2 linked regions of the Homo sapiens genome follow. The main gene of each other region encodes a partner of the protein of the gene in region 2 in a complex. Each region holds a gene or a part of one and is shown on either strand. Other genes may lie near its edges. The genes, in order: TLR4 and LY96. A codon is read from its position in the direction of its gene.

Region 1 (15,862 bases), on a different chromosome or scaffold from region 2:
GCAAAAACCTACATATCGAAGTCCTAACCCCTCTACCTCAGACTATGACTGTATATGGAGAGAGAGCCTTGAAAGAGGTATGTAAGGTAGAATGAGGTCATTATGGTGGGCCCTAATCCAACATAACTGGTGTCCTTATAAGAAGGGGAGATTAGAATTCAGACACACTTGCTGACACCTTGAGTTCAGACTGGAAGCCTCTAGAATTGTGAGAAAATGAATGTCTGTTGTTTAAGCCACCCAGTCTGTGGTATTTCCTTATGGCAGCCCCAGCAAACTAATACAAATAGTGTTTCCACAGCTGAAACAAAATTGGAAAATCACCGTCATCCTAGAGAGTTACAAGGGCTATTTTAATAGAACCTGATTGTTTTCCTAAATTCACCAAGCCCAGGCAGAGGTCAGATGACTAATTGGGATAAAAGCCAACTAGCTTCCTCTTGCTGTTTCTTTAGCCACTGGTCTGCAGGCGTTTTCTTCTTCTAACTTCCTCTCCTGTGACAAAAGAGATAACTATTAGAGAAACAAAAGTCCAGAATGCTAAGGTTGCCGCTTTCACTTCCTCTCACCCTTTAGCCCAGAACTGCTTTGAATACACCAATTGCTGTGGGGCGGCTCGAGGAAGAGAAGACACCAGTGCCTCAGAAACTGCTCGGTCAGACGGTGATAGCGAGCCACGCATTCACAGGGCCACTGCTGCTCACAGAAGCAGTGAGGATGATGCCAGGATGATGTCTGCCTCGCGCCTGGCTGGGACTCTGATCCCAGCCATGGCCTTCCTCTCCTGCGTGAGACCAGAAAGCTGGGAGCCCTGCGTGGAGGTATGTGGCTGGAGTCAGCTCCTCTGAACTTTCCCTCACTTCTGCCCAGAACTTCTCACTGTGTGCCCTGGTTTGTTTATTTTTGCAAAAAAAAAAAAGAGTTAAATTACCTTAAAGACTCAAGAAGCCACAGAGATCAAATAATTCATTGTTACAGGGCACTAGAGGCAGCCATTGGGGGTTTGTTCCATTTGGAAATTTTGAGTGCTAACAGGGGCATGAGATAACATAGATCTGCTTAAGGTCCCTGCTCTGCTACCTTGTGGCTCTGTGAAGAAATTATCAAACCTGTCTGAGACTAGTTTTCGCATCTGTAAGAGAATTATAATACCTTCTTCACTAGAGAGTAAGCAGACTGCTTCAGTGTCATTTCTTCCCACTGGTGGTCTTTACACTCAGCTTCAAGCAGTCACCCTGCTCCTTTCAATCTCAGGAAAAAGATGGCTTTTGTGTGTGTGTCTCTAGAGAAAGAACTTTCTAAGTGGGTGTCAGACTTCTGTATGCAGTAATATAGTTTAGTCCAGAGGATGAAAAAAATAAGAGAATGAAAAAGGAAAAGAGAGAGAGAGAGAAGAAAAAAGCAAGAGGGAAATATGTATAATGTCAGCTAATGCAACAGTTTCTTTCTTAGTGAAATACCAATCAGCTGGTTGGTAATCTTATTCATGATGGATCTCTTTTGTTTTTCCCCTGCGCAGACTTCACAGTTGCTTTAGAAACCCATAGTAGAGCCGAACAGCTAAGAAAATGATTTACAGTGAGGCAGGGTCAGAAACTCAAGAGAGAAAAAGCCAGCTGCAGTCCTGAAGTTGAGGATATAGGAGAAAATCAAGTAATATTTAGCAAAGACTAATTCATTATCTTGAAGCCATCCCTTCCCTCAATTCCCTGCCCATAGTCCTCCTCCTTGTCCTCTTCTCTGTATCCCTCTGCTGTTAGGTTAATGGAGATAGATTTTCTAATTAGGCTCACTGCGAGATAAAACCACAGCCAAACTTGACTTCTTTTCCCCATGTACCTTTTCCTGTCAGTCCCTGAAGCCTGTCCATCCCTGCCCATCCCCTTAGTTCCACTGTAAGGCAGGCCCTCATTTCCCCTGGCATTGACTCTTACACACTAACTGCTTTCCTGATTCCAGTCTTCTTCCTTTAATTCATTCTGCACGTTCTTGTTTGTTATGTACTTGCATTTGTTGTTATTATTTTTCCTTAGGCTTCAATCTAACAAATTACTCTCCTTAAAAACTTTTAATAACTCTCCATTGCCATTAGAACAGCTTTCTACCACAGGGCCTTTGCACTGGCTATTTCTTCTACCTAGAATGCTAGATCAGTGCTATCCATTGGCAATATTATGTGAGCCACATATGTACTTTTAAAGTTTTTAGTAGCCTCATTAAAAAAAGAAACAAGTGAATTTAATTTCGATAATAGTTTTATTTAACTTAGCGTATTTAAAATAATGTTTAAAATTTTAATATATATTTACCTATTATTGATATTTTTACATTCCTTGTTTGGTACTAAGTCTGGAATTTAGTATATGTTTTACATTTACCACACTTCTCAATTTACACTATTCACATTTCTTGTGTTTGATAACTGTGTATGGCTAGTGACTACCGTATTGGTCAGTGCAGCCCAAGTCCTTTTCATGCTTTAATCACTCCATTCAGATCTCTGATTAAATGTCCCCTCCTCAGGGCAGTCTTCCTTGATTGCCCCATGTAGAGCTCTCCAGCCTCACTTATTTGCCTCAAATCCCCTTATACTGCTTAATATTTTTTTTTCTAGAGCACAACATTTTATATTTTTGTTTGTTTATTTTCTCTCTCTCCCTTTGTAATGGAATCGGTAAGGAGGCAGGATCATTGCTGGTTTTATTTACCACTATATTTCCAGTGGCCAGCACACAGTAGCCGCTAGATGTGTAAGTGATAAATGATTGAAATAATTGCTGCAGGACAAAGTCTGAGGCCCTCCTGATCTGGCTTGCCCTCTTACTTAGATTTCACCACTCCCACCACTCACCAGCTAATCTGAGTTTGTTTTCCACTCTTTACGTGCTCACGTTGTCCTCTCCTTAGGACATGTTTTTCTTCCCCTTTCCACATATCTAAACCTTACTCATCTTCCAAGACCCACTTTAAAATCTTCCTTTTCTGGGAAGCCTTTCCTGAATCCAGACTTGATCTCTGCTTTCTCTGAACCACAGGGCATATTTTCTAAGCCTATTTTATGGCCCCTTGAGATAGTGTTAGCTTTGCTCCTATCTAAACTCTTACTCTAGACTGTGAGTCCATTGAAGTCTGGAGCTGCATCATATTTTTCTTTGTAATGCCCACAGCACTTGGCAGGAAATGCCTACAATTTGGACTTAAGTAAACCTTCATTTAATCAGTTATTCAATCAGTTAGTGATTCAGCAAATATTTATTGAGCACCAACCATTTGCCAGACACCATTCTGAGTGCTGGAGACAAAGCAGTGGGCAAACCCATCAAACTTGCAATGGAATACAGGAGATGAACAATACGATGAGAACAATCAGATAGACAACATAATGTTAGATGGTTGTGCTTCCCGTGAAAGGGAATAAAAGAGGGCAAAGAAAGAGTGCCTGGCACTGTTTCTATTAGACAATATTGTCTTTGAGGCTCCATGGCTTGCAACATTTAAGCAGACATACGAATGAAGATCTGCATGTTTGAACTCTGACTTTGCGCATATTACTTCATTTCTTTGAATTTCCATTTTCCTCATCTTTAAATGCTTATTTGAAGATTAAGTGAAAGTATATAACAAACAAGAACTATGCAGGCATATGGTAAGGGATTAATGATAGATGATAATAATTAATGTTGACATCTATTGATCACTTATACTGTAGCGGGCTTTTAAATAAACTCTTTAAACACCTTATCTCATTTAATCCTTCAAACATTCTATTGGTTTCAAACAACAGAAAACTACAATTAGCTGGCTTCTGCAAGGAATTTTGTTGGAGGAAATGAGAGCATTCAGAAATTAGATGGGAGCGTTAGAGAATTAGGCTTACAAAGAATGTGGGAAAGTAGGCTAGAAAGCAGTGTAAAAACAAAGACAGCATAAAGCACTTGACCTTATTTACTAGGTTCCACCATGGGAATCCATGCACTCTAAAGATTTCCCCCTATTTCTACATCACTTTGCTCAAGGGTCAATGAGCCAAGAAAAAGAATGCAGTTGTCAAAATCTGGGCCATGACTAAGGAAGGTCTGGACATCTTGACTGCCAGACAGTCTCCCCAATGATATGGAGTATTTAAAATGATACTGGATATTTTATTTATTTTTTGTATTTTCAACTTTTAAGTTCAGAGGCACATGTGCAGAGCATGCAGGTTTATTACATAAGTAAATGTGTGCCATGGTGATTTGCTGCATAGATCATGAAAATATGGAACGCATCATGGATTTGTGTGTCATCCTTGTGCAGGGGCCATGCTCATCTTCTCTGTATCCTTCCAATTTTAGTGTATGTGCTACTGCAGCAAGCACGATATTGGATATTTTATTACCTACATTTTACATATGATAAAATGAGGCTCACTGAGGTTTTTCTTTTGTTCGTTTTATTTTGTTTTGTTTTTAAAGACTTGGCCCTAAACCACACAGAAGAGCTGGCATGAAACCCAGAGCTTTCAGACTCCGGAGCCTCAGCCCTTCACCCCGATTCCATTGCTTCTTGCTAAATGCTGCCGTTTTATCACGGAGGTTAGAATGCTGAGCACGTAGTAGGTGCTCTTTACTTTCTAATCTAGAGTAAGACAATTTATAAGCATGAATTGAGTGAATGGATGGATGGATATATGGATGGAAGGATGGACAGATGGATGAAAGGTTGACTGAATTTTGTGCTTGCACAAAAAGAGGCCCCTCTCCACCATCTCTGGTCTAGGAGAGGGGAGTTGGGAGACCATGCAGTAAAGATACTTCATGTCATGTGTAATCATTGCAGGTGGTTCCTAATATTACTTATCAATGCATGGAGCTGAATTTCTACAAAATCCCCGACAACCTCCCCTTCTCAACCAAGAACCTGGACCTGAGCTTTAATCCCCTGAGGCATTTAGGCAGCTATAGCTTCTTCAGTTTCCCAGAACTGCAGGTGCTGGATTTATCCAGGTAATGAATCCACTTTTACATACTGCACAAGGTGAGGTGTTCATTGTCCTGTCATTTCATTATTGGACTGGAAAGCTTGGTTTGTGGAGTCTCATCTTCATTCACTTATTCATTCATACAACAGATGTCTTATTAACTATATAACCTTGAGCAAGCTACCTCTATTCTCCAGGTCTCAGTTTTCTAATCTGTGAAGTAGGCAGTTGGCTGAGACAGCTTCTAAGGGCAATTCTAATTTTAGGTTTTCTTTTAAGACAGGAGAGAAAATTAGCTTAAATTCTTTCATAAGCAGCTATTTATTGACTACTTGCTATATGTTGTACACTCTGCAAGAAGACAGGCATATATTGATATATAACACACAGCCCCTGTTGTTAAGGAGGCATATCTTCTTGAAAGAGTTAATACCTTAAAGTCCTGGGTATGGTCCTGGGTACATAGTATATAGTCAACACATTTTAATTATGATTTTTTGGATCTGGAAACTGATATAAAGATAGCGACATATAACAGTAGGTGATAAATTATGTTTAAACTAAAGGTAACTAATTGTATTTTTCAGAAGAGGGGCCTTCTCTGTGGTGGGTAGTCAAGAAAGATTTCATGAACTGCATAAGATTCAAACAATGTCTAGAATATTAAAACTAGTGTACAGGATAGGGAATTAGGAAAAGACAAGTAACCCAAGGAGAAAGATGTCAAGATTAAAGGAAAACATCTGCTGTGGGCAGGGAATAATGGCTAAGATTTTCTTTTCTGATGCAGGGAAGTATATCGTTTGTTGTGGCAGGTGAAATGTCATCTTGATATTTTAGGGGAACCAAATTCTAAAAGGGTTTTCATCATCGGGGCCTTATTTGCAAATCGAACTAGATAATGGATCATGTTCTCTGCAATGGTTTGTAAAACATTTCAAAACATTTTACATATTTTTTATTATAGAAATTATTGATAAAGACTAAGGTCACAGTATAAAAATCCTTTTTAGAGCAGACATTTCTGTAGAAGAGTGAGCATACGACCTATTATACTCTAATTTGGATATAGATAGGATGTAACAAAGGAGTAATGGAACAATTCAAAGGCAGTGGTATAGTGCATAGAGTCCTGTTGGGGTCAGAAGACCTGAGCCAAGTTTACCCCCAACCTTTATAACCATGTAACCTTAGGCATATTACTTCATCTCCCTTAATCTTAGTTTTCATATCTGATCAATGGAAATGATGAAACTTATTCTGCTGGATTAAATGTGATAATAAATATTAATATGCTGTATATATTTAAATTTTTATAAAATATATTTTATAAGCATAAAGTATTCTTACAGAATTTCATTAGGTTTTTAAAATAATTTCAACTTTTATTTTTGATTCAGGGATTTACATGGTTATATTGCGTAATGCTGAGGTGTAGGGTACAATCGATACCATCACTCAGGTAGTGAGCATAGTACCCAATAGTTAGTTTTTCAACCCTTGCTGCTTTCTCTCTATCCCCTCTCTAGTAATCCCCAGGGTCTATTTTTGTCATCTTTATGTCCATGTGTACTCCATGTTTGGATCCTACTTATAAAGTGAGAACTCATGGTATTTGGCTTTCTGTTCCTTTGTTAATTTGCTTAGGATAATGGCTACTAGCTGCATCTATGCCATTATGTTCTAAATTTCAGTTTCCTGCATGAAAATTTTGTCAAGTACTCTATTAAGGTAGACCACCTCTCCCTTTTTTTTTTTTTCAAACAAGAAGTAGTTTTTCACCAAACAATGTCTCTTATGTAATTCATCTTCAATCCACTGGATACCCAATAAACTTGCCCCAGAAACCTTAAATCTGTGCTTACAGAGAGGCCAGCTTCCCTTCTTGTTAACCCATAGGAGATTCTGAATTAGGGCAAGCACAAAAGATAGCACAATAGACATCCTTTGCCTTTTCGTACAGTGTTCACATACAGTAACTCAACTAGTCTTGTAAGAATGCTTTGTGATAGACCAGGCAGCCTTCTTTCCCCTATAGAAATATATATATATTTCTTTTTATAGGTGAGGAAACTGAAGCTTGAATAATTTAAATGACTTATATACATTATCATTGCTTGTTAGCCACAGACCAGAGATTTAAGTTCACATCTCCAGAATCCAACTTAAATGTTTTCTTTGTCTTAATACTCTACTTCTCTAAAGTGATTATCACCAATGTAATGATATAGAGACACAGCAAGACCCTTTCCTTCTCACCTAATGTATAGAGCAATGCAGAGATAGAATGATGGGCTATAACAATCATATAATTGAAAGAAAGAACTTCAAAAATAATCAAGTTCAGCTGTTTGATTTATAAATGTGATAACTAAAACCTAGAGAGGAAAAGAGGTACTCAAGATCACACAGTAGGAGAGGACTGCAGAAACACCAAACCCAAGCTCTTTTGTCCACTCTTCCAGCGTTCTTTCTACTATACTGCCTATCCTTTATCTAGTTACCAATAAATAACAAAAGCTTGGACCACAATGCTTTTATTGTCTAGGAAACTCCTGAAGAAGCTAAATAAAATGGGTGGGGAATATTGTAAATGTAATTCAGGCTGGATTAAGAAAGAACTTATTTGTACATTGTAACTGACAAGCACCTGCAATGCTGAAAGGAATTTTTCATTGGCTTGCTGTTTGCTGGCTGCATCAAAGCCCTGTCTCTAGGACATGTCTCTGAACATTGTGTGTAGCATGGCTTTCATTTCTTTTAGGATAAAATTCAAAACCCTTTATCTGGTTGGTAAACCTCTGCCTAATTGGGAACCTTCTTTCTCCACAACTCCATATTGTACACTCCAATTTCATCTCTGTTCTCCAACCATGGAAGCTATTTGTCATGATTCCTCCTTGTGTCATTTTTTTTCTGTCAACCTTGGGGCTTTTGTGTTTGCTGTTCACTTCACCTCCTTTTATTGTTAACTTCTACTCATCTTTCAATTTTCAACTTAAGTGTTCTCAGAGAAACCTACTTTGATTTTCTTGGTCCACAACGGTTCTCTGGATGTGAACTCTTATAGCACATAATTTTCACTTTTTTCCACAAAACTCGCTCCTATCACCTGTTACAAGCATTTACCTCTGATAACAAGAACTTTCAAATATCTAGCTGTCATGTAAGCACTTTTCATAAACATTAAGAGTATCTGTGACACTTATGTGTAATTTTTCGTATCTCTGAAATTGATATTTACCAGTCATTTATCTTGGCTACCAACTAACAACTATCCATATTATCTGTACCAATCAGATGTATAATCACAATTTTGTGTGACAGAAAATGGCTAAACTTGATCCAAGGCTATTACATGCTTTATCAACTGCACAATCTTTATATATGTCAATTATTGATCTTTAACTGATTTCCTTCTTATGGATTTTCTCCTCTGCTTATCATGTATGCCTAACATGACAAAAAAGAGCCTATCATTGCAGCCAGTATGATAATACTCAGTCTGTGGGGCTTCTTATTTGCTTATTCCATCATCATCTGTCCTGCTTGATGTCTTTGCCTATGCACAATCATATGACCCATCACATCTGTATGAAGAGCTGGATGACTAGGATTAATATTCTATTTTAGGTTCTTATTCAGCAGAAATATTAGATAATCAATGTCTTTTTATTCCTGTAGGTGTGAAATCCAGACAATTGAAGATGGGGCATATCAGAGCCTAAGCCACCTCTCTACCTTAATATTGACAGGAAACCCCATCCAGAGTTTAGCCCTGGGAGCCTTTTCTGGACTATCAAGTTTACAGAAGCTGGTGGCTGTGGAGACAAATCTAGCATCTCTAGAGAACTTCCCCATTGGACATCTCAAAACTTTGAAAGAACTTAATGTGGCTCACAATCTTATCCAATCTTTCAAATTACCTGAGTATTTTTCTAATCTGACCAATCTAGAGCACTTGGACCTTTCCAGCAACAAGATTCAAAGTATTTATTGCACAGACTTGCGGGTTCTACATCAAATGCCCCTACTCAATCTCTCTTTAGACCTGTCCCTGAACCCTATGAACTTTATCCAACCAGGTGCATTTAAAGAAATTAGGCTTCATAAGCTGACTTTAAGAAATAATTTTGATAGTTTAAATGTAATGAAAACTTGTATTCAAGGTCTGGCTGGTTTAGAAGTCCATCGTTTGGTTCTGGGAGAATTTAGAAATGAAGGAAACTTGGAAAAGTTTGACAAATCTGCTCTAGAGGGCCTGTGCAATTTGACCATTGAAGAATTCCGATTAGCATACTTAGACTACTACCTCGATGATATTATTGACTTATTTAATTGTTTGACAAATGTTTCTTCATTTTCCCTGGTGAGTGTGACTATTGAAAGGGTAAAAGACTTTTCTTATAATTTCGGATGGCAACATTTAGAATTAGTTAACTGTAAATTTGGACAGTTTCCCACATTGAAACTCAAATCTCTCAAAAGGCTTACTTTCACTTCCAACAAAGGTGGGAATGCTTTTTCAGAAGTTGATCTACCAAGCCTTGAGTTTCTAGATCTCAGTAGAAATGGCTTGAGTTTCAAAGGTTGCTGTTCTCAAAGTGATTTTGGGACAACCAGCCTAAAGTATTTAGATCTGAGCTTCAATGGTGTTATTACCATGAGTTCAAACTTCTTGGGCTTAGAACAACTAGAACATCTGGATTTCCAGCATTCCAATTTGAAACAAATGAGTGAGTTTTCAGTATTCCTATCACTCAGAAACCTCATTTACCTTGACATTTCTCATACTCACACCAGAGTTGCTTTCAATGGCATCTTCAATGGCTTGTCCAGTCTCGAAGTCTTGAAAATGGCTGGCAATTCTTTCCAGGAAAACTTCCTTCCAGATATCTTCACAGAGCTGAGAAACTTGACCTTCCTGGACCTCTCTCAGTGTCAACTGGAGCAGTTGTCTCCAACAGCATTTAACTCACTCTCCAGTCTTCAGGTACTAAATATGAGCCACAACAACTTCTTTTCATTGGATACGTTTCCTTATAAGTGTCTGAACTCCCTCCAGGTTCTTGATTACAGTCTCAATCACATAATGACTTCCAAAAAACAGGAACTACAGCATTTTCCAAGTAGTCTAGCTTTCTTAAATCTTACTCAGAATGACTTTGCTTGTACTTGTGAACACCAGAGTTTCCTGCAATGGATCAAGGACCAGAGGCAGCTCTTGGTGGAAGTTGAACGAATGGAATGTGCAACACCTTCAGATAAGCAGGGCATGCCTGTGCTGAGTTTGAATATCACCTGTCAGATGAATAAGACCATCATTGGTGTGTCGGTCCTCAGTGTGCTTGTAGTATCTGTTGTAGCAGTTCTGGTCTATAAGTTCTATTTTCACCTGATGCTTCTTGCTGGCTGCATAAAGTATGGTAGAGGTGAAAACATCTATGATGCCTTTGTTATCTACTCAAGCCAGGATGAGGACTGGGTAAGGAATGAGCTAGTAAAGAATTTAGAAGAAGGGGTGCCTCCATTTCAGCTCTGCCTTCACTACAGAGACTTTATTCCCGGTGTGGCCATTGCTGCCAACATCATCCATGAAGGTTTCCATAAAAGCCGAAAGGTGATTGTTGTGGTGTCCCAGCACTTCATCCAGAGCCGCTGGTGTATCTTTGAATATGAGATTGCTCAGACCTGGCAGTTTCTGAGCAGTCGTGCTGGTATCATCTTCATTGTCCTGCAGAAGGTGGAGAAGACCCTGCTCAGGCAGCAGGTGGAGCTGTACCGCCTTCTCAGCAGGAACACTTACCTGGAGTGGGAGGACAGTGTCCTGGGGCGGCACATCTTCTGGAGACGACTCAGAAAAGCCCTGCTGGATGGTAAATCATGGAATCCAGAAGGAACAGTGGGTACAGGATGCAATTGGCAGGAAGCAACATCTATCTGAAGAGGAAAAATAAAAACCTCCTGAGGCATTTCTTGCCCAGCTGGGTCCAACACTTGTTCAGTTAATAAGTATTAAATGCTGCCACATGTCAGGCCTTATGCTAAGGGTGAGTAATTCCATGGTGCACTAGATATGCAGGGCTGCTAATCTCAAGGAGCTTCCAGTGCAGAGGGAATAAATGCTAGACTAAAATACAGAGTCTTCCAGGTGGGCATTTCAACCAACTCAGTCAAGGAACCCATGACAAAGAAAGTCATTTCAACTCTTACCTCATCAAGTTGAATAAAGACAGAGAAAACAGAAAGAGACATTGTTCTTTTCCTGAGTCTTTTGAATGGAAATTGTATTATGTTATAGCCATCATAAAACCATTTTGGTAGTTTTGACTGAACTGGGTGTTCACTTTTTCCTTTTTGATTGAATACAATTTAAATTCTACTTGATGACTGCAGTCGTCAAGGGGCTCCTGATGCAAGATGCCCCTTCCATTTTAAGTCTGTCTCCTTACAGAGGTTAAAGTCTAGTGGCTAATTCCTAAGGAAACCTGATTAACACATGCTCACAACCATCCTGGTCATTCTCGAGCATGTTCTATTTTTTAACTAATCACCCCTGATATATTTTTATTTTTATATATCCAGTTTTCATTTTTTTACGTCTTGCCTATAAGCTAATATCATAAATAAGGTTGTTTAAGACGTGCTTCAAATATCCATATTAACCACTATTTTTCAAGGAAGTATGGAAAAGTACACTCTGTCACTTTGTCACTCGATGTCATTCCAAAGTTATTGCCTACTAAGTAATGACTGTCATGAAAGCAGCATTGAAATAATTTGTTTAAAGGGGGCACTCTTTTAAACGGGAAGAAAATTTCCGCTTCCTGGTCTTATCATGGACAATTTGGGCTAGAGGCAGGAAGGAAGTGGGATGACCTCAGGAGGTCACCTTTTCTTGATTCCAGAAACATATGGGCTGATAAACCCGGGGTGACCTCATGAAATGAGTTGCAGCAGAAGTTTATTTTTTTCAGAACAAGTGATGTTTGATGGACCTCTGAATCTCTTTAGGGAGACACAGATGGCTGGGATCCCTCCCCTGTACCCTTCTCACTGCCAGGAGAACTACGTGTGAAGGTATTCAAGGCAGGGAGTATACATTGCTGTTTCCTGTTGGGCAATGCTCCTTGACCACATTTTGGGAAGAGTGGATGTTATCATTGAGAAAACAATGTGTCTGGAATTAATGGGGTTCTTATAAAGAAGGTTCCCAGAAAAGAATGTTCATCCAGCCTCCTCAGAAACAGAACATTCAAGAAAAGGACAATCAGGATGTCATCAGGGAAATGAAAATAAAAACCACAATGAGATATCACCTTATACCAGGTAGAATGGCTACTATAAAAAAATGAAGTGTCATCAAGGATATAGAGAAATTGGAACCCTTCTTCACTGCTGGAGGGAATGGAAAATGGTGTAGCCGTTATGAAAAACAGTACGGAGGTTTCTCAAAAATTAAAAATAGAACTGCTATATGATCCAGCAATCTCACTTCTGTATATATACCCAAAATAATTGAAATCAGAATTTCAAGAAAATATTTACACTCCCATGTTCATTGTGGCACTCTTCACAATCACTGTTTCCAAAGTTATGGAAACAACCCAAATTTCCATTGAAAAATAAATGGACAAAGAAAATGTGCATATACGTACAATGGGATATTATTCAGCCTAAAAAAAGGGGGAATCCTGTTATTTATGACAACATGAATAAACCCGGAGGCCATTATGCTATGTAAAATGAGCAAGTAACAGAAAGACAAATACTGCCTGATTTCATTTATATGAGGTTCTAAAATAGTCAAACTCATAGAAGCAGAGAATAGAACAGTGGTTCCTAGGGAAAAGGAGGAAGGGAGAAATGAGGAAATAGGGAGTTGTCTAATTGGTATAAAATTATAGTATGCAAGATGAATTAGCTCTAAAGATCAGCTGTATAGCAGAGTTCGTATAATGAACAATACTGTATTATGCACTTAACATTTTGTTAAGAGGGTACCTCTCATGTTAAGTGTTCTTACCATATACATATACACAAGGAAGCTTTTGGAGGTGATGGATATATTTATTACCTTGATTGTGGTGATGGTTTGACAGGTATGTGACTATGTCTAAACTCATCAAATTGTATACATTAAATATATGCAGTTTTATAATATCAATTATGTCTGAATGAAGCTATAAAAAAGAAAAGACAACAAAATTCAGTTGTCAAAACTGGAAATATGACCACAGTCAGAAGTGTTTGTTACTGAGTGTTTCAGAGTGTGTTTGGTTTGAGCAGGTCTAGGGTGATTGAACATCCCTGGGTGTGTTTCCATGTCTCATGTACTAGTGAAAGTAGATGTGTGCATTTGTGCACATATCCCTATGTATCCCTATCAGGGCTGTGTGTATTTGAAAGTGTGTGTGTCCGCATGATCATATCTGTATAGAAGAGAGTGTGATTATATTTCTTGAAGAATACATCCATTTGAAATGGATGTCTATGGCTGTTTGAGATGAGTTCTCTACTCTTGTGCTTGTACAGTAGTCTCCCCTTATCCCTTATGCTTGGTGGATACGTTCTTAGACCCCAAGTGGATCTCTGAGACCGCAGATGGTACCAAACCTCATATATGCAATATTTTTTCCTATACATAAATACCTAAGATAAAGTTCATCTTCTGAATTAGGCACAGTAAGAGATTAACAATAACTAACAATAAAATTGAATAGTTATAATAATATATTGTAATAAAAGTTATGTGAATGTGATCTCTTTCTTTCTCTCTCTCAAAATATCTTACTGTACTGTACTCACCTATTTTCAGACCATAACTGACCATGAAACCTGGGAAAGTGAAACTGTGGATAAGTGAGGAACTAACATACATACATGATTGTTTATCTACAGATGTATGCCTCAGTTTCTTAGTATGCTTGAAAATGTATGATTTTGTGTATATCCGTGCTACATGTAAGTGTGGTTCTATTCATATTTGAATATGAATTCTGCATAAGTGTGTTTATTCAAGCAAATGTACAAGGCTCTGAGAAGGAAGATCAACATACAACTTGGAATATTTCAAGGCCGAAATATTCAAGGCTGACATTGGCCTCCTTCCTATCAGTTCCCTCTCCCAGATGGAAATTCTAGAAATGGCAGGTGAGGTGGACAAGCAGGGAAAGAAATTATATGCATAGAACAGAAGGAGAAGAAAGAGTAAAGTCAGGCCTCAGCCAGCCTCTTTTTAGCTCTTTAAATCCTCTGGATTTAAGAGGGATAAAGGGTGGAATAAGGATAAATTAATGCCAATTGTAATGCCTTAAATTTGTGTGATACCTTACAACTTGAAACATATTCACAAAACTATATATTTGAATATCTCATTAGCTGAGTAAGGTAGCAAATCATAATTAACTTTTTCCATTTTATTGATGGGAAAGCTGAAGTTCAATGAAGTAAATTTTTCAATAGCCCACAGAGTAGGAAAGTGACAAAACCTGAGCCTGGGCCTCCAGGTCACTCAAGGACACTTTCTTTCTTCCACACCCAATTGCTTCATGCTTAAAGTTGGCAAAACAGGAAGTGAAACTCCTGCAGTTTTCTGTGTGGTTGACACTAGCAAGGGTTTCTCAGTTGAAGCCATGAATCATTAAGCCAATACATATGCATATATGTTATACATACCAAATGATTTATTTATAACCCTATCTTTCCATAAAGGACTTGAAGGAGCTTCAAACAAAGGATATGTGAACAATAGGGTTAATCAATAATAAGTAGAAAATCTGGACATAGAATAAAAAGAGGAGAGAAAGACACCGAGAATGAGCGTTAATACAGTGCTTTCCATTTTTCTGGTGTTTTGAGTAGCGTGGCTTTTGGAGAAAGCCAAAACTCAAATTCACTCCTTATCAACTGTGTGCCTTGGGCTCCATTTCTCTGAGAGTCTACTTAGCTCCAATGTAAAATAAGAATAGAACTATGACTTTGTAAGGTTGCTCTAAGGATTGAAAATCATGTATTATGTTCAATACGGGGACACTGTCCTTATGGGTGAGTACTCCCCTAAGACTTTATTAAGAGGGCACTAGGAGAAGCACTGGGAGGTCTTCTCAGTAACAACACTAAAGTAATTGCTATTTTTCCAGCCTGTGGAACCACAGAAGTGACTGTAACTAAAATTAGACATTTCTTTCTGATTCATTCTCTACTCACGGGATTGTCAGACCCCAGTCTTCTTCTGGACTCTATAAACTTTTTAGAAATCATCAGCAGGCTCCTGGAGAAGCTTAAATGAACTCACACAATATGTGACAGTGAACTCCCTGGGAGAGTGAAAACCAAAGTCTAAGCCAGTGTCTCCATTTACTTGTGTGATTGTGGGCAAGTCATTCAAGTGCTTTGAGGCTCAGGTCTTAATTCATGAAATGGAGGTAATAATACCTTGTTGGCAGACCTCACTTGGTTAAAATGATAATGTTGATAGTTACAATAGTTACATTTAATTGATCAATTGTTTTATGCAAGGGCTTTATTTGTGCTATCTCAGTTTGTCACATCAATGAATTAGAAAGATACGAAAGTATTTCCAATTTACAAATGAGGAGTCTGAGTCTGGGAGTCATTCTGTCATGTGTCCACTGTCACCTGCTCATTGGTGGCAGCACTGAGATTAGGATCTAAGTCCACTTCACCGCAGAAGCAGGGCTTCTAAATACTGTTCTATGGCAAGAGCACCCTGCTCTCACAAAATGCATAAAACTTCCTATCTCACCATTATAATTTTGACTGATATTAAACAAAGAGAAGTATTATTATTATTACTTGTTTTTATTTATATTACAGCTGTAAGAGCCAGGAAAAATGTGATCTAAGTTATGTGATCAAAGATTTTTTAACAGTGAACAA
Region 2 (15,862 bases):
AAAGACACAGACTGGCAAATTGGATAAAGAGTCAAGACGTATCAGTGTGCTATATTCAGGAGACCCATCTCACATGCAGAGACACACATAGGCTCAAAATAAAGGGATGGAGGAAGATCTACCAAGCAAATGGAAAGCAAAAAAAAATAAAAAAAATAAATAAATAAACAGGGGTTGCAATCCTAGTCTCTGATAAAACAGACTTTAAACCAACAAAGATCAAAAGAAACAAAGAAGACAATTACATAAAGGTAAAGGGATCAATTCAACAAGAAGAGCTAACTATCCTAAATATATATGCACCCAATACAGGAGCACCCAGATTCATAAAGCAAGTCCTTAGAGACCTACAAAGAGACTTAGACTCCCACACAATAATAATGGGATACTTTAACACCCCACTGTCAATATTAGACAGATCAATGAGACAGAAGGTTAACAAGGATATCCAGGACTTGAACACAGTTCTGCACCAAGCAGACCTAATAGACATCTACAGAACTCTCCACCCCAAATCAACAGAATATACATTCTTCTCAGCACCACATTGCACTTATTCCAAAATTGACCACATAGTTGGAAGTAAAGCACTCCTCAGCAAATGTAAAAGAACAGAAATCACAACAAACTGTCTTTCAGACCACAATGCAATCAAATTAGAACTCAGGATTAAGAAACTCACTAAAAACTACACAACTACATGGAAACTGAACAACCTGCTCCTAAGTGACTACTGGGTACATAACGAAATGAAGGCAGAAATAAAGATATTCTTTGAAACCAATGAGAACAAAGACATAACGTACCAGAATCTCTGGGACACATTTAAATCAGTGTGTAGAGGGAAATTTATAGCACTAAATGCCCACAAGAGAAAGCAGAAAAGATCTAAAATCGACACCCTAACATCACAATTAAAAGAACTAGAGAAGCAAGAGCAAACACATTGAAAAGCTAGCAGAAGGAAAGAAATAACTAAGATCAGAGCAGAACTGAACGAGATAGAGACAAAAAAACCCTTCAAAAAATCAATGAATCCAGGAGCTGATTTTTTGAAAAGATCAACAAAATAGATAGATTGCTAGCAAGACTAATGAAGAAAAGAGAGAAGAATCAAATAGACGCAATAAAAAATGATAAAGGGGATATCACCACCGTTCCCACAGAAATACAAACTACTATCAGAGAATACTATAAACACCTCTATGCAAATAAACTAGAAAATTTAGAAGAAATGGATAAATTCCTGGACACATACACCCTCCCAAGACTAAACCAGGAAGAAGTCGAATCCCTGAATAGATCAATAACAAGTTCTGAAATTGAGGCAATAATTAATAGCCTACCAACCAAAAAAAGTCCAGGACCAGACAGATTCACAGCCAAATTCTACCAGAGGTACAAAAAGGAGATGGTACCATTTCTTCTGAAACTATTCCAATCAATAGAAAAGGAGGGAATCCTCCCTAACTCATTTTATGAGGCCAGCATCATCCTGATACCAAAGCCTGGCAGAGACACAACAAAAAAAGAGAATTTTAGACCAATATTCCTAATGAACATCGATGAGAAAATCCTCAATAAAATACTGGCAAACCAAATCCAGCAACACATCAAAAAGCTTATGCGCCAAGATCAAGTTGGCTTCATCCTTGGGATGCAAGGCTGGTTCAGCATACACAAATCAATATACGTAATTCATCACATAAACAAAACCAAAGACAAAAATCACACGATTATGTCACTAGATGCAGAAAAGGCCTTCGACAAAATTCAACAGCCTTTCATGCTAAAAACTCTCAATAAACTAGCTATTGATGGAACGTATCTCAAAATAATAAGAGCTATTTATGACAAACCCACAGCCAATATCATACTGAATGGGCAAAAACTGAAAGCATTCCCTTTGAAAACTGGCACAAGACAGGGATGCCTCTCTCACCACTCCTACTCAACATAGTGTTGGAAGTTCTGGCCAGGACAATAAGGCAAGGGAAAGAAATAAAGGGTATTCAATTAGGAAAAGAGGATGTCAAATTGTCCCTGTTTTCAGATGACATGATTGTATATTTGGAAAACCCCATCATCTCAGCCCCAAATCTCCTTAAGCTGATAAGCAGCTTCAGCAAAGTCTCAGGATATAAAATAATGTGCAAAAATCACAAGCATTCCTATACACCAATAACAGACAAACAGAGAGCCAAATCATGAGTGAACTCCCATTCACAATTGCTACAAAGAGAATAAAATATCTAGGAATCCAACTTACAAGGGTTGTAAAGGACCTCTTCAAGGAGAATTACAAACCACTGCCCAACGAAATAAAAGAGGACACAAACAAATGGAAGAACATTCCATGCTCATGGATGGGAGGAATCAATATTGTGAAAATGGCCATACTGCCCAAGGTAATTTATAGATTCAATGCCATCCCCATCAAGCTACCAATGACTTTCTTCACAGAATTGGAGAAAACTACTTTAAAGTTCATCTGGAACCAAAAAAGAGCCTGCATTGCCAAGACAATCCTAAGCAAAAAGAGCAAAGCTGGAGGCATCATGCTACCTGACTTCAAACTATACTACAAGGCTACAGTAACCAAAACAGCATGGTACTGGTACCAAAACAGAGATATAGACCAATGGAATAGAACAGAGGCCTCAGAAATAACACCACACATCTACAATCATTTGATCTTTGACAAACCTGACAAAAACAAGCAATGGGGAAAGGATTCCCTATTTAATAAATGGTGCTGGGAAAACTGGCTAGCCATATGTAGAAAGCTGAAACTGGATCCTTTCCTTAAATCTTATACAAAAATTAATTCAAGATGGATTAAAGACTTAAATGTTAGACCTAAAACCATAAAAGCCCTATAAGAAAACCTAGGCAATATGATTCAGGACATAGGCATGGGCAAGGACTTTATGACTAAAACACCAAAAGCAATGGCAACAAAAGCCAAGATAGACAAATGGGATCTAATTAAACTAAAGAGCTTCTGCACAACAAAAGAAACTGTCATCAGATTGAACAGGCGACCTACAGAATGGGAGAAAATTTTTACAATCTACCCGTCTGACAAAGGGCTGATATCCAGAATCTACAAAGAACTTAAACAAATTTACAAGAAAAAATCAAACAACCCCATCAAAAAGTGGGCAAAGGATATGAACAGACACTTTTCAAAAGAAGACATTTATGCAGCCAAGAGACACATGAAAAAATGCTCATCATCACTGGTCATCAGAGAAATGCAAATCAAAACCACAATGAGATACCATCTCACACTGGTTAGAAAGGCGATTGTTAAAAAGTCAAGAAACAATAGGTGCTGCAGAGGATGTGGAGAAATAGGAATGCTTTTACACTGTTGGTGGGAGTGTAAACTAGTTCAACCATTGTGGAAGACAGTGTGGCAATTCCTCAAGGATCTAGAACTAGAAATACCATTTGACCCAGCCATCCCACTACTGGGTATATACCCAAAGGGTTATAAATCATGCTACTATGAAGACACATGCACACGTATGTTTATTGCAGCACTATTCACAACAGCAAAGACTTGGAACCAACCCAAATGTCCATCAATGATAGACGGGATTAAGAAAATGTGGCACATATACACCATGGAATACTATGCAGCCATAAAAAACGATGAGTTCATGTCCTTTGTAGGGACATGGATGAAGCTGGAAACCATCATTCTGAGCAAACTATTGTAAGGACAGAAAACCAAACACTGCATATTCTCACTCATAGGTGGGAATTGAACAATGAGAACACTTGGACACAGGGCAGGGAACATCACACACCAGGGCCTGTCATGGGGTGGGGGGCTGGGGGAGGGATAGCATTAGGAGAAATACCTAATGTAAATGACTAATTAATTGGTGCAGCAAACCAACATGGCACATGTATACATATGTAAGAAATCTGCACATTGTGCACATGTACCCTAGAACTTAAAGTATAATTTAAAAAAAAAAGAAAAGAAAAGAATGGAAGGTATGAGCAAGATATGAGCTTTCTTGGCAGGCACAGTGGCTCAAGCCTGTAATCCCAGCACTTTGGGAGGCCGAGGCGGGCAGATCACTTGAGGTTAGGAGTTCCAGACCAGCCTGGCCTACATGGTGAAACCCAGTCTGTACTAAAAATACAAAAGTAGATGGGTGTGGTAGCACATGTTTGTAATCCCCGCTACCACCCGGGAGCCTGAGGCAGGAGAATCACTTGAATGAAGGCAGAGGTTGCGGTGAGCCAAGATCCCACCACTGCACTCCAGCCTGGGCTACACAGTGAGACTCCAGTCTCAAAAAAAGAAAAACCAAAAAAAAAGATAGCTTTCTAAGACAGACAAAACAATTGAAAAACAAAAAAAAAAGGGTTCTATCCAACAGAAGAGGTTAGAACTCCTTCCACCTACCTGAACTGCTAAGTGTTAGGACAGTCTCCCTTAATAGAAATCTAGGGTTTTTTCTTTTTTTCTTTTTTTTTTTTTTTGTGACAGGGTCTCGCCCTGTCGCCCAGGCTGGAGTGCAATGGCGCAGTCTCAGCTCACTGCAACCTCTGCCTCCCAGGTTCAAAAGATTCTCCTGCCCCAGCCTCCCCAGTAGCTGGGATTATAGGTGCATGCCACCACGCCCAACAACTTTTTTTGTATGTTTAATAGAGATGGAGTTTCACCATGTTGGCCAGGCTGGTCTCAAACTCCTCACCTCGTGATCAGCCCACCTCGGCCTCCCAAAGTGCTGGGATTACAGGCGTGAGCCACTGTTCCTGGTCTAGTGGTTGTTCTTAATTTCTTTCTCATATCCTCAAGTCTCATCCATCTTCCTCCCCTGCCCCTTACACAAAGTTTACAGAGTTGGCTTTATGACCAGAGTCCAGGGCCCCATATACGGAAGGGCCCCATGCTTGGGGTTTAATGCCCTGTGATCATAGTCTTGAAATTCTTAATAATTTTATCTTTGAGTGTGTGTTTTGTGTAAGTGAAATCTAATGAGATGATGAGGTATGAACCCACCTTCCCTGGACCGGTTCTTGGTTCCCGCTGCCCACTTCCCTGCTGGCACCATGGGATCCCCTCCCCTCTTCTGTCCAGTGCAACCTGCTACCCTCTGCTCCTGGTGAAATCCTGGCTACAGGGAGGGTCAGGATCCGGTGTGGGTGCCCTGCAGTATCTTGGGTGGGCATGACAGTGGCTGCCCTACCTGGGCTGGCAGCACCACAGCCCTGTTCAGCAGCTGACTAGTTGGGCACACCATCCCCTGCCCCACCCCGAAACAGGTAGTGTGTGGAGGTATTGCATGGAGGTTGCAGTGCGTTGAGAGTCACTGTTGAATAGCAGGCCTGTGGGAAAGAAAGGTACTTGCTTGGACTTCCTGCCTCTCACAGGAGCATGGGGCATCTGGCAGTTTGTGGAAGGAGGACGCTGACAGGCAACTCTCAGGCCCAAGCTTGCACAGGAGCCCCCAGTCGTGGAGGAGCCCCTGGGTGTTTCTGCACTCACCTATGCTGCTTGCTGAGGGGTCATTCCCTCAGGCTGTTCCATGTCTTGGGGACCTTCTCTTTCTCCGTTCAAATTTCCTGCCTCTGGCTTGTGTTAGTTTCCTCTGGCCAGCTCGAGGCACCCTCTGGGGTTGAGCAGGGAAAGACAAATTATGTAATCTCCGTGATTCTACCTTGAAGTTAAATGCTTTAATATTTGCATTTAAAACTGGCATTGTATTATAAAAAGATGAATAGTGAAATTCATACTAACAGTTTAAAATGTTCTCTTTATTACAAATGATATTAAATTGCAATAAAAACATTATGGCAAGTCTAGAGAGAGAAACACACAGAAGAAAGGAAAAAGTTTTATGTTCTAGTAACTTTAACAGGTTTCCCCCATCTTTTGAATAAGCAGCCTCATATTGTCATTTTGTGCTGGGCCTTGAAAATTATGTATTTAATTATGTAATGATGTATTGCATTACTTTTCATGGCAAAAACTGCAATTACTTTTACACCAACCTAATAGTTGATCCTGAAGCTGGGTACTGAGAATTAGGTGCTAGGTGCCAGATATCCAAATATCCAAAGCAAAACCCCGGTCCTCATGGAGATTATAGACTAGTGGAGAAAACAAGATCCTAATGAAGTAATAAAATAAAGAAAAGCAGAAAAATGAAATATGATTCAATTTGTGATAAATACTCTCAAAGAAACAAGCAAGTTAATGAGATAGAGCCTATTATTATTATATTATTATATAATATATACATATATGACTAATATATTAATGCATTAATATTCACAAGGTATGAATATGTTATTATTCACAAGATGCCATTGGAAGGAGGGTCTAGAAGGGAGAAGGAATAATATTAAATGTTATAAGTAACATTTAATGGTAATAATATTTAATAAGTGCTATGTCCTAGGCATTGTTCTTAGCACTTAACATGTATTAACTGGTATAGCCCTTGTAATAATCCTATGAGATACGTGTTATCGCCCATCAGCATTTTACTGAGGCATAGAAAAATTAAGTGACTGGCCTAAAGTTACACACCAAGTAGAGGAGCTGGGATTCAAACCCAAGCCGTTCTGGCCCCAGAGCCATCACTCTTACAAAGATGTTATCTTTATCCTTACTGCATCTTTCTCATTGCATATTGTATTTGGAATGGTTTCTTCTTATCATTTTAGGGGTCTTTTTTTGGTTTTTAAAAATTTTAATTTTATTTTAATTTAATGTATTTATTTTGAGACAAGGTCTCCCTGTCACCCAGGCTGGAGTGAAGTGGCACGAACACAGCTCACTGTAGCCTCTACCTACTGGGATCAAGTGATCCTCCCACCCTAGCCTCTCGAGTAACTGGGATTATAGGCACATGCACCACACCCATCTTTCTTTTATATATTTTGTACAGATAAGGCTTCACCATGTTGCCCAGGCTGGTCTTGAACTTCTGGGCTCAAGGGATCTACCCTCTTTGGCCTCCCAAAGTGTTGTGATTACAGGCATGAGCCACCGCTCACAGCTGGAATGGTTTCTTAAATATCTATATCTCCAATAGACTTTAGCTCTTTGAGAGAAGGGACAGAGTTGTACTACCATTGTCTTCCCAGGCCCTGGTGGGTAGTAGGCTTTCAATAAGTGAGTTGTTGAACTGTTAAATTTTGAATTGGATTGGCCTTGAATGAAAGATCATAAGATTATGAAGACATGATCACTTTACTGAGCTCAAGAAACACCTCAGGTATCAACTCCTTTAGTAAGGATACACCCGGCTAGGTGTGGTGGTTTATGTCTGTAATCCCAGCACTTTGGAAGGCCGAGGCAGGCAGATCACCTGAGGTTAGGAGTTCAATACCAGCCTGGCCAACATAGAGAAACTCTGTCTCTACTAAAAATACAAAAATTCGCCAGGCGTAGTGGTGGGTGTCTGTAATCCCAGCTACTGGGGAGGCTGAGGCAGGAGAATGGCGTGAACCCAGGAGGCGGAGCTTGCAGTGAGCCAAGATTGTGCCACTGCACTCCAGCCTGGGCGACAGAGCGAAACTCCGTCTCAAAAAAAAAAAAAAAAAAAAAGATACACCCTTTATCTGCTTTAAAGAAAGAGCAAAAAGAAAAGAAAAGACAGCTGGGCGCAGTGGCTCATGCCTGTAATCCCAGCACTTTGGAAGGCCAAGGCGGGCAGATCGCCTGAAGTTGGGAGTTCGAGACCAGCCTGGTCAGCATGATGAAACCCTGTCTTTACTAAAAATACAAAAATTAATCGGGTGTGGTGGCAGGCGCCTGTAATCTCAGCTACTCAGGAAGCCGAGGCAGGAGAATCTCTTGAACCCGTGAGGCAGAGGTTGCAGTGAGCTGAGATCACGCCATTGTACTCCGGCCTGGGCAACAGAGTGAGACTCCATCTCAAAACAAAGAAACAAACAAAAACAGAAAGAGGATACATCCAGAAGTAAATAAATAAATGCTTACTTGTGAGACTAGAAGTATACATGCAGACATTAATTATTTACTTCTGAGAACAATATTATAGTTTTTGATTTAACTATATTAAAAATATTTTTGGCCACTGTTTCTTTTGTTTGAGATTCAAAACATACATTTCTATCTTTACCCCACCACATTCACTACTTTGTTCTGACTGGAACAGTAGGATGTGCATTTTTCTGCACTTTTGACTCTGTGCTCCACAGCTTGTGTGGGGCCAGGCCCGTGGCTATGCACTTAAACAGAAGCTAACTTGAGCTTCTCAGTGGTGTAATTGGGAGGAGCTTCAGTATTCTGGCTGCCTCCAAAATATCTCATCTGTCTTTGCAAGATTGTTCTCTATTATACCCAGCTTAATGTGCATCAATATCTCTGAAAACTAGTTTGCAATGCACATATGTAACTTGTTCTGAAGCATATTAGCACTAGCTTGTTCATCGTTTATTCATTATTGAGACCAGCAGGTCTTAATAGTTTGTGTCCCCTAAGGGATAAGGTAGGGGCAGGTGTACAGAGAGGCTCTAGGGGCGGAGAAAGGAAGCCACAGGAGAATAGCAGCCAGGGTATAAAAGATTCATTATTTTTCTACAGTTTTGCTTGGGACTGCGTCTGTCAGTAGTTAAGGTATACTCCATGCTACCAAGAAAAAAATATCACCTAACCGTGACCAATAACGTTTTGTATTTTATATTTTGTTTGCAGAGACTGTGAATACAACAATATCATTCTCCTTCAAGGGAATAAAATTTTCTAAGGTATTGTTCAAGATTTATTTTGTACTGTCTAACCTTTAGCAGTAATAGACATGTTAAGCATTTGAAACAAGCAATTCACAACTTCTTCCTTTTTCTTTCTTTTTTTTTTTTAAATGGGATCTCAGTCTGTTACCCAGGCTGGAGTGCAGTGGCACGATCTCTGCTCACTGCAACCTCCACCCGCCAACCCCCACCCCAAGCAATCCTCCTGCCTTAGCCTCCTGACTAGCTGGGACTACATGTCCATGCCACAATGCCAGCTAATGTTTTGTACTTTTGGAAGAGACGCGGTTTCACCATGTTGCCCAGGTTGGTCTTGAATTCCTGAGCTCAAGCGATCCACTCCGCTTAGCCTCCCAAAGTGCTGGGATTACAAGTATGGGCAGTTGTGCCCAGCTGACAATTTCATGAATAGCAGTTCGAGATTAAGATGTTCAGGGTTTTTTCTTTCACTTTTATTTAGAATTAGCTTTTTTTTTTTTTTTTTAACTGAGTCTTGCTCTGTTGCCCAGGCTGGAGTGAAGTGTGTTCTGGACTCACTGCAACTTCCGCCTCCCAGGTTCAGGTGATTCTGTGCCTCAACCACCCGAGTAGCTGGGATTACAGGCACATGCCACTATGCCCAGCTAATTTTTTTATTTTTAGTAGAGATGGGGTTTCACCATGTTGCCCAGGCTGGTCTCAAACTCCTGGCCTCATGTGATCCACCCACCTTTGTTCCTGGACCAAACTGAGGGTCGGGCTGCCATTTCTCGCAGCCCAATAGCAAGATGCAGATGAACTGGGGAGGAAGAGAGCTTTTATTTCTGTAACTGGTTACAGGGAGAAGGTCTGGAAATTATCGCCAGACCAACTCAAAATTACAAAGTTTTCAGAGCTTATATACATTCTAAGGTATATGTCTATGTGTAAGTGTGCATTCATCTGAAGACACAAGTGATTAACTTCTTTTAATCTATAATTAAGGTCTGAGTCCTGAAGACCTTCATCTGGAGCCTCAGGAACTTTACTTAATCTAAATGGGTCTGGGTGCTGGGGTGATTACCTTTATCTTGTCTCCTGCTAAATCATGGAGGTTTGAGGAGTTCCTTCAGACCCCCAGTAAACTTGGTTGTGGAAGCCTGGGGAGTTTCTTCGGACCCACAATAAAACTCGATTGATCCTAAATGGGTCCTATTAAGAATTTCTTAGTTATTTTGTTATGGTTTAAGAAAGCCTTAAAGGAAGGGCCTGGGCAAAACTCCTGATGGGCTTTTGTTACATCCCATCCTTTGCATAAGGGCGCTGGCTTTAAATATTTAACTTAACCACTCAGTACTGAAACAGTTGTTAGTGAGACCTGGCCTTGGCCTCCCAAACTGCTGGGATTATAGGTGTGAGCCACCACACCCAGCCTTAGTATTAGGTCTTTTGGTATTTTTTCTTTCTGTAGACTATGGAAAAATTGCACAAAACATAGCATTTTTTTCCGCTTCATTTTTTTTTCCCTCTAACATACATGGGCAAAAGTAATTTGAATGCAAGTGCTCATTACTAATCTGTTGAACAGTCTTCAGATGAAAGCACTGGATGACCATTGTGTATAAGCCAGTAAATCTCTATAACTATTCATGTAAATATAATGTGAACATTGTTTAGGAGAATAAAAATCACATAAATTACAGACTTTTTTTGTTCAAGATTTTTTTGGGAACTTAGTCTGGTCATCCATGCCTTTGTAAAAATAATTGCTGCCTCAATGAATAATACCATTGTGATTCTAGATATTTGCGTGACATATCTAGTAATGAGATTTTATGCATTTTACTTATGGTGACCATTTTAAAATAAAATTTAATAATGCATATTCTTTCATTATTTTGTTATAAACTAATATCTAATATTTCAAAACCTCTTAGGTTAGTTTTTAAAAATAACATAATCTTATAATTGGGAAATAAATGGGCTTTATGCTCATTTAATTCAAAGACATGGAAAATTTCGTCTCATTGGAAAACTATAAAATCAATCCAATTTAAATGGCTTTCTGCTAGTAAGAGAAAGTTCTTACAAAGCCTCTGAAATAGTAGCATCTAACATTTTGTATTACTTGTATTTCTTATACTTCATTTTAGGGAAAATACAAATGTGTTGTTGAAGCTATTTCTGGGAGCCCAGAAGAAATGCTCTTTTGCTTGGAGTTTGTCATCCTACACCAACCTAATTCAAATTAGAATAAATTGAGTATTTAAAAAAAAATTTAAAGGTATTGTTCCTGTTTTAAGGGTACCCAGGATTTGTTTTAATCAGATATGGTAGGATAGGAAGACACAGAAATGACTGTCATGAAGAAAGAAGCTTATCCTCACAGATCTCTAGGAAACGGAGGCATGGTGCATCATGCAGAGCCACCTGGGGAAGCACCAGTGTCTGTGAGAATGTGGAGGGAGGGGAAGAATGTGGGCAAGAGTGTTTGTTATGTTTTCCACAGGAAGCAATGGGCAAGGTAGGGTAAGTAATTGATATGGTTTGGCTGTGTCCCCATTCAAATCTCATCTTGAATTGTAGTTCCCATAATCCCCACATGTCATGGGGGACCCAGTGGGAGGTAATTGAATCATGGGGATGGTTACCTCCATGCTGTTCTCATGATAGTGAATGAGTTCTCATGAGATCTGATGGTTTTATAAGGAGCTTTCCCCACCCACCCCTTTTGCTCTGCACTTCACCTTCCTGCCACCATACGAAGAAGGACGCGTTTGCTTCCCCTTCTGCCATGATTGTTTCCTGAGGCCTCCCCAGCCCTGCAGAGCCGTGAGTCAGTTAAACCTCTTTCCTTTATTTTATTTATTGTTTTGAGATGGAGTCTCACTCTGTCACCCAGGCTGGAGTGCAGTGGCACCATCTCGGCTCACTGCAACCTCTGCCTTCCAGGTTCAAGTGATTCTCCTGCGTCAGCCTCCCAAGTAGCTGGGATTACAGGCACCTGCCATCACACCTGGCTAATTTTTGTATTTTTAGTGGAGATGGGGTTTCACCATATTGGTCAGGCTGGTCTTGAACTCCTGACCTCAGGTGATCGGACTCCCAAAGTGCTGGGATTACAGGCATGAGCCACTGCGCCCAACCTAAACCTCTTTCCTTTAGAAATTACCCAGTCTTGGGTATTTCTTCATAGTAGCGTGAGAATGGACTAATACAGCAGTGTTGACCTAAAAGGAAGAAGCTGAGACAGAATTAGTGTAAGTAGAGAGTTTATTTGGGCCAAGCTTGAGGACTGCATCCTGGGAGCATGGCAACTTGAGTTGCCCTGAATATATACTCCATAAATTAGCAGCAGTTACAAGAGGGTTTTTAAAGGGAAAGAAGAGGGAGTTTCTGAGTTGTTTACCAAGAATTTACATTAAAAAGGCTGGGTGCAGTGGCTCACACCTGTAATCCCATCAATTTGGGAGGCTGAGGCGGGCAGATCACCTGAGGTCAGGAGTTTGAGACCAGCCTGGCCAACATGGTGAAATCCTGTCTCTTCTAAAAATACAGAAATTAGCTGGGCCTGGTGGCATGCGCCTGTAATCCCAGCTACTTGGAAGGCTGAGGCAGGAGAATCGCTTGAACCCGGGAGGTGAAGGTTGTAGTGAGCCAAGATTGTGCCACTGCACTCCAGCCTGGCGACAGAAGTGTTTTTGGTGAAGTTTATAGAAACAAAAGGATGGGGTCTTTTCTGCTTGGAGACCCCTCTCTCTATATAGAGAAAGCTGTTTCTCTTTCTCTTCTCTTCTGCCTATTAAACCTCCACTCCTAAACTCCTCGTGTGTGTTTGTGTCCTAAGTTTTCCTGGTGAAAGATGACAAACCCTGGGTTTATACTCCAGACAACGTAGCAGCTTCATATTGGAGGTTCATCTGGGATACCAAAGTACAACATTCATTGAAACGGTGAGCAGAGGAGCAGACTCCAACTCTGTCCTTACATTTCAAGGCTGTCAGCCTCCATTTAAGAACCAAATCAAACCAACTACTGGGCCACCTTCAGCCATTTAAAAATGATTAGCATGGCTGCCAGCCTTATAAGACTTGGAGGACAGGCTTTCTGGAGAGAACATGGAGAATCCCCGAGTACCCATGGGTTGTTGGGCATATTGGCCCTGTTTGAACCAGCTTACTTTCAGAGAGGACTTAGCTGTTGCATGGGGCTGGAAGAGGTTTTGGAGCAACTGAGGATTTCTGGCTGGGGCTACCCCCGTGTTATCCAAAGGCTTCTGGACTGACCCCAGCTTCCGACCACCTGATAGGGTGTCAGTAATAGGATTGCCACCTTTCCTATTGTAATTTCCTCCTTTCCTGTCCATGACCACCATATCTCTCATCCTCTCTGTATGAAATCCGGAGTATATGCCGCCTGCTGGTCTTTTCCACTTGGAGACTATTTCTCTTTCTTTTCTCTTCTGCCTATTAAAACTCTGCTCCAAAATAACAAAAAACAAAAAGACACAAGGATGTGTTTTTTGCTAAAGAAAATGTAATTTTGCTGGGTGTGGTGGCTCACGCCTGTAATCCCAGCACTTTGGGAATCCAAAGCGGGCGCATCACAAGGTTAGGAGTTCGAGACCAGCCTGGCCAGTATGGTGAAACCCTGTCTCTACTGAAAATACAAAAATTAGCCGGGTGTGGTGGCGGGCACCTGTAGTCCCAGCTACTCAGGAGGCTGAGGCTGAGGCAAGAGAATTGCTTGAACCCAGGAGGCGGAGGTTGCGGTGAGCCGAGATCGTGCCACTACTGCACTCCAGCCTGGGCGACAGAGTGAGACTCTGTCTCAAAAAAAAAAAAAAAGTAATTTTTTTTTAGTTAAGTGACTATTTAAGAGTTGCTTTAGAGTAAAGGAAAAATTATACAGATAAAACTAAATGGATAAAGAGAAAAACTAAGCCCAGGCAACAAAGTTACCTCTGAGACCTGTGGTTACCAAGAAGACAGTCAATGTGGAGGAAGGGCAAAATGAAGCAACCATTAAAACCAGAGGGTAGCCAGGCATGGTGGCTTCTGCCTGTAATCGCACCACTTTGGGAGGCCGAGGTGGGTGGGTCACCTGAGGTCAGGAGTTCCAGACTAGCCTGGCCAAGACGGTGAAACCCTCATCTCTACTAAAAATACAAAAATTATCTGGTAGTGGTGGCGCACACCTGTAATCCCAGCTACTTTGGATGCTGAGGAGTGAGAATCTCTTGCACCCAGGAGGCAGAGGTTGCAGTGAGCCGAAATTGTGCCACTGCACTCCAGTGTGGGTGGCAGAGCAAGATCCTGTCTCAAAAAACAAAAACAAAACAAAACAAAAAAACAACCAACCAACCAAACATAAAACCCGAAAAGCCACAGGGGATTGTGTAAATGAATTGTTCCATTTTGTAGATTGGTATCATCATCTCCCTGAGAAACCTTTACTACAATTAAGGGAGGAGACCACCCCTCATATTGTCTTATGCCCAATTTCTGCCTCCAAAGGAAGAAGAAGTAAAAACTAAAAGGCAGAAATGAAATCCACAGGCAGACAGCCCGGCGTGCTGCGCCCTGGGCCTGGTAAAGATCAACCCCTGACCGATTCCAGACATTGTATGGAAAAGCATTGTGAAAATCCCTGTCCTGTTCTGTTCTGATTACCTGTGCTTGCAGCCCCCTGTTACGTACCCCCTGCTTGCTCAATCGATCACGACCCTCTTACGCGGACCCCCTTAGAGTTGTAAGCCCTTAAAAGGGACAGGAATTGCTCAGTCGGAGAGCTCGGTTTTTGGAGACGTGAGTCTGCCCGGTGCTTCCAGCTGAATAAAGCCCTTTCCTTCCACAACTTGGTGTCTGAGGGGTTGTTGTCTGCAGCTCATTCTGCTACACAATAAATTGTAAAAATAACTACTTTAAGGATAGAATCCTTAATTTTAAATGCTACAGAATGAAAGAGCTTGATTGGGTTGATGCAGGACCCACAGCTCACTATTAAACAATTGCTGGTGAATGTGTGTGATCCAAATACACAGGAGGTGATTCCTGAGGGAACAACCAGCCTAGTGTTTATCCTGAGAAGGAGATTGCCCAACTCTCCCTATAAAATGCCAAGTGGAACACCCCAGATGAAGCAGTTGATATGCTTCATATGCAAGCCATGTGGGACTGGCTTTATGATGACCCAAATATTCTCCAACAAAAATTTCTATTGCCCACATCATGGTAAATTTTGGGGTTTAGGGGGCCCTTTTTACATGGGCACCCTGGGTGACATTACTCCGGCAGAATCATACGACTATTTGAGCAGCCTTATCAAGTTTGCTGTCTCTTGTGGGTTTTACAGATGCTTAATAAAATATCAGGCATAATTAACAAAAAAAAAGATGGGTAAGGAGAAAGGGATTAAAAGAGCTCACCCCAGAACAGTGATATAATTTTTTGGATGGTTATTAAGAAAAGAAAGAAATAAAATGAAAATTGAGGGAGTTAAAACAAAGGCCTTTAAAACACTATTTGCCCCTAGATTGGAAAATATAAGAAAAATCCAAAGACAATGGTTATAATGAGAATGCTACGTTGCCTGGGGCAATACTGAGGCAAATTAAGATAAAGATTGACAAAAGGGACTGAGTCCTTTGGCCCAACCCCCTGCTGGGGGCCCATATCCTTTTGATATAGGGTCTTGCTCCCTGACGAATGCAAGGAGGAGAATACTTATGAGCAGGGGGCCTCTTTTTCCCCTAGGACTGATTCTAACTTTATAGAAGCTGCTAGATTCTGCAGTGCCTGATAGACAGCTCCCATCTAACCAGAGCTGTTTCACTTGTGAAGTTCGAAGGTGAACAAAGGACATCTTGTTTGGAAGGCTGCTGCTGTGGTTAAAGAGGAGTCAAGCAAATCTTTTTCTTTTGAATTATTTATTGTTTAGAGCAATTAAGTGAAGAATGTTTTTGTGAGCAAGTTTACTTTTCTCTCTGAGCTCTCCAGAATTCAGAAACTGTTCATGGGTATTCTGATTTTATGACAATATAGTTATTTGCATAAGTGTAGTAAGATTCGTTTCTTTCAAAACAGGACAATTGGAGACTTTTTTTTTTTTTAAACCAGGGCTTTGACTAGAATAACATATTTTTAGGCAA

Evidence for each region.
Region 1: the proteins of LY96 (region 2) and TLR4 are in contact, whole or in part, in a crystal structure (PDB 4G8A), measured with the Homo sapiens proteins. Residues at the interface, in NP_056179.4 of Homo sapiens: Met40, Tyr42, Ile66, Pro67, Arg68, Arg96, Ser98, Asp99, Asp100, Asp101, Tyr102, Ser103, Phe104, Arg106, Leu108, Lys109, Gly110, Glu111, Thr112 (codon at 8,701), Thr115 (codon at 8,710), Thr116 (codon at 8,713), Ile117 (codon at 8,716); in NP_612564.1 of Homo sapiens: Gln39 (codon at 4,840), Met41 (codon at 4,846), Glu42 (codon at 4,849), Asp60 (codon at 4,903), Ser62 (codon at 4,909), Phe63 (codon at 4,912), Asp84 (codon at 4,975), Ser86 (codon at 4,981), Arg87 (codon at 4,984), Thr110 (codon at 8,712), Gly111 (codon at 8,715), Val132 (codon at 8,778), Val134 (codon at 8,784), Glu135 (codon at 8,787), Asn156 (codon at 8,850), His159 (codon at 8,859), Ser183 (codon at 8,931), Ser184 (codon at 8,934), Asp209 (codon at 9,009), Leu212 (codon at 9,018), Arg234 (codon at 9,084), Val259 (codon at 9,159), Glu262 (codon at 9,168), Phe263 (codon at 9,171), Arg264 (codon at 9,174), Asn265 (codon at 9,177), Glu266 (codon at 9,180), Arg289 (codon at 9,249), Ala291 (codon at 9,255), Tyr292 (codon at 9,258).

Annotation. Positions count from the first base shown.
Region 1 is NC_000009.12:117,703,745-117,719,606, forward strand, and holds the start of TLR4 (toll-like receptor 4 isoform A precursor), read left to right. Parts: upstream 1-658; 5' UTR 659-728; coding exon 729-821; intron 822-4,454; exon of another isoform or gene 4,455-4,574; intron 4,575-4,818; coding exon 4,819-4,985; intron 4,986-8,644; coding exon 8,645-10,904; 3' UTR 10,905-15,862.
Region 2 is NC_000008.11:74,018,091-74,033,952, forward strand, and holds the end of LY96 (lymphocyte antigen 96 isoform 1 precursor), read left to right. Parts: intron 1-8,698; coding exon 8,699-8,751; intron 8,752-8,876; coding exon of another isoform or gene 8,877-9,071; exon of another isoform or gene 9,072-10,595; intron 10,596-10,865; coding exon 10,866-10,964; 3' UTR 10,965-10,989; downstream 10,990-15,862. UniProt on the Homo sapiens protein: Binds bacterial lipopolysaccharide (LPS). Cooperates with TLR4 in the innate immune response to bacterial lipopolysaccharide (LPS), and with TLR2 in the response to cell wall components from Gram-positive and Gram-negative bacteria.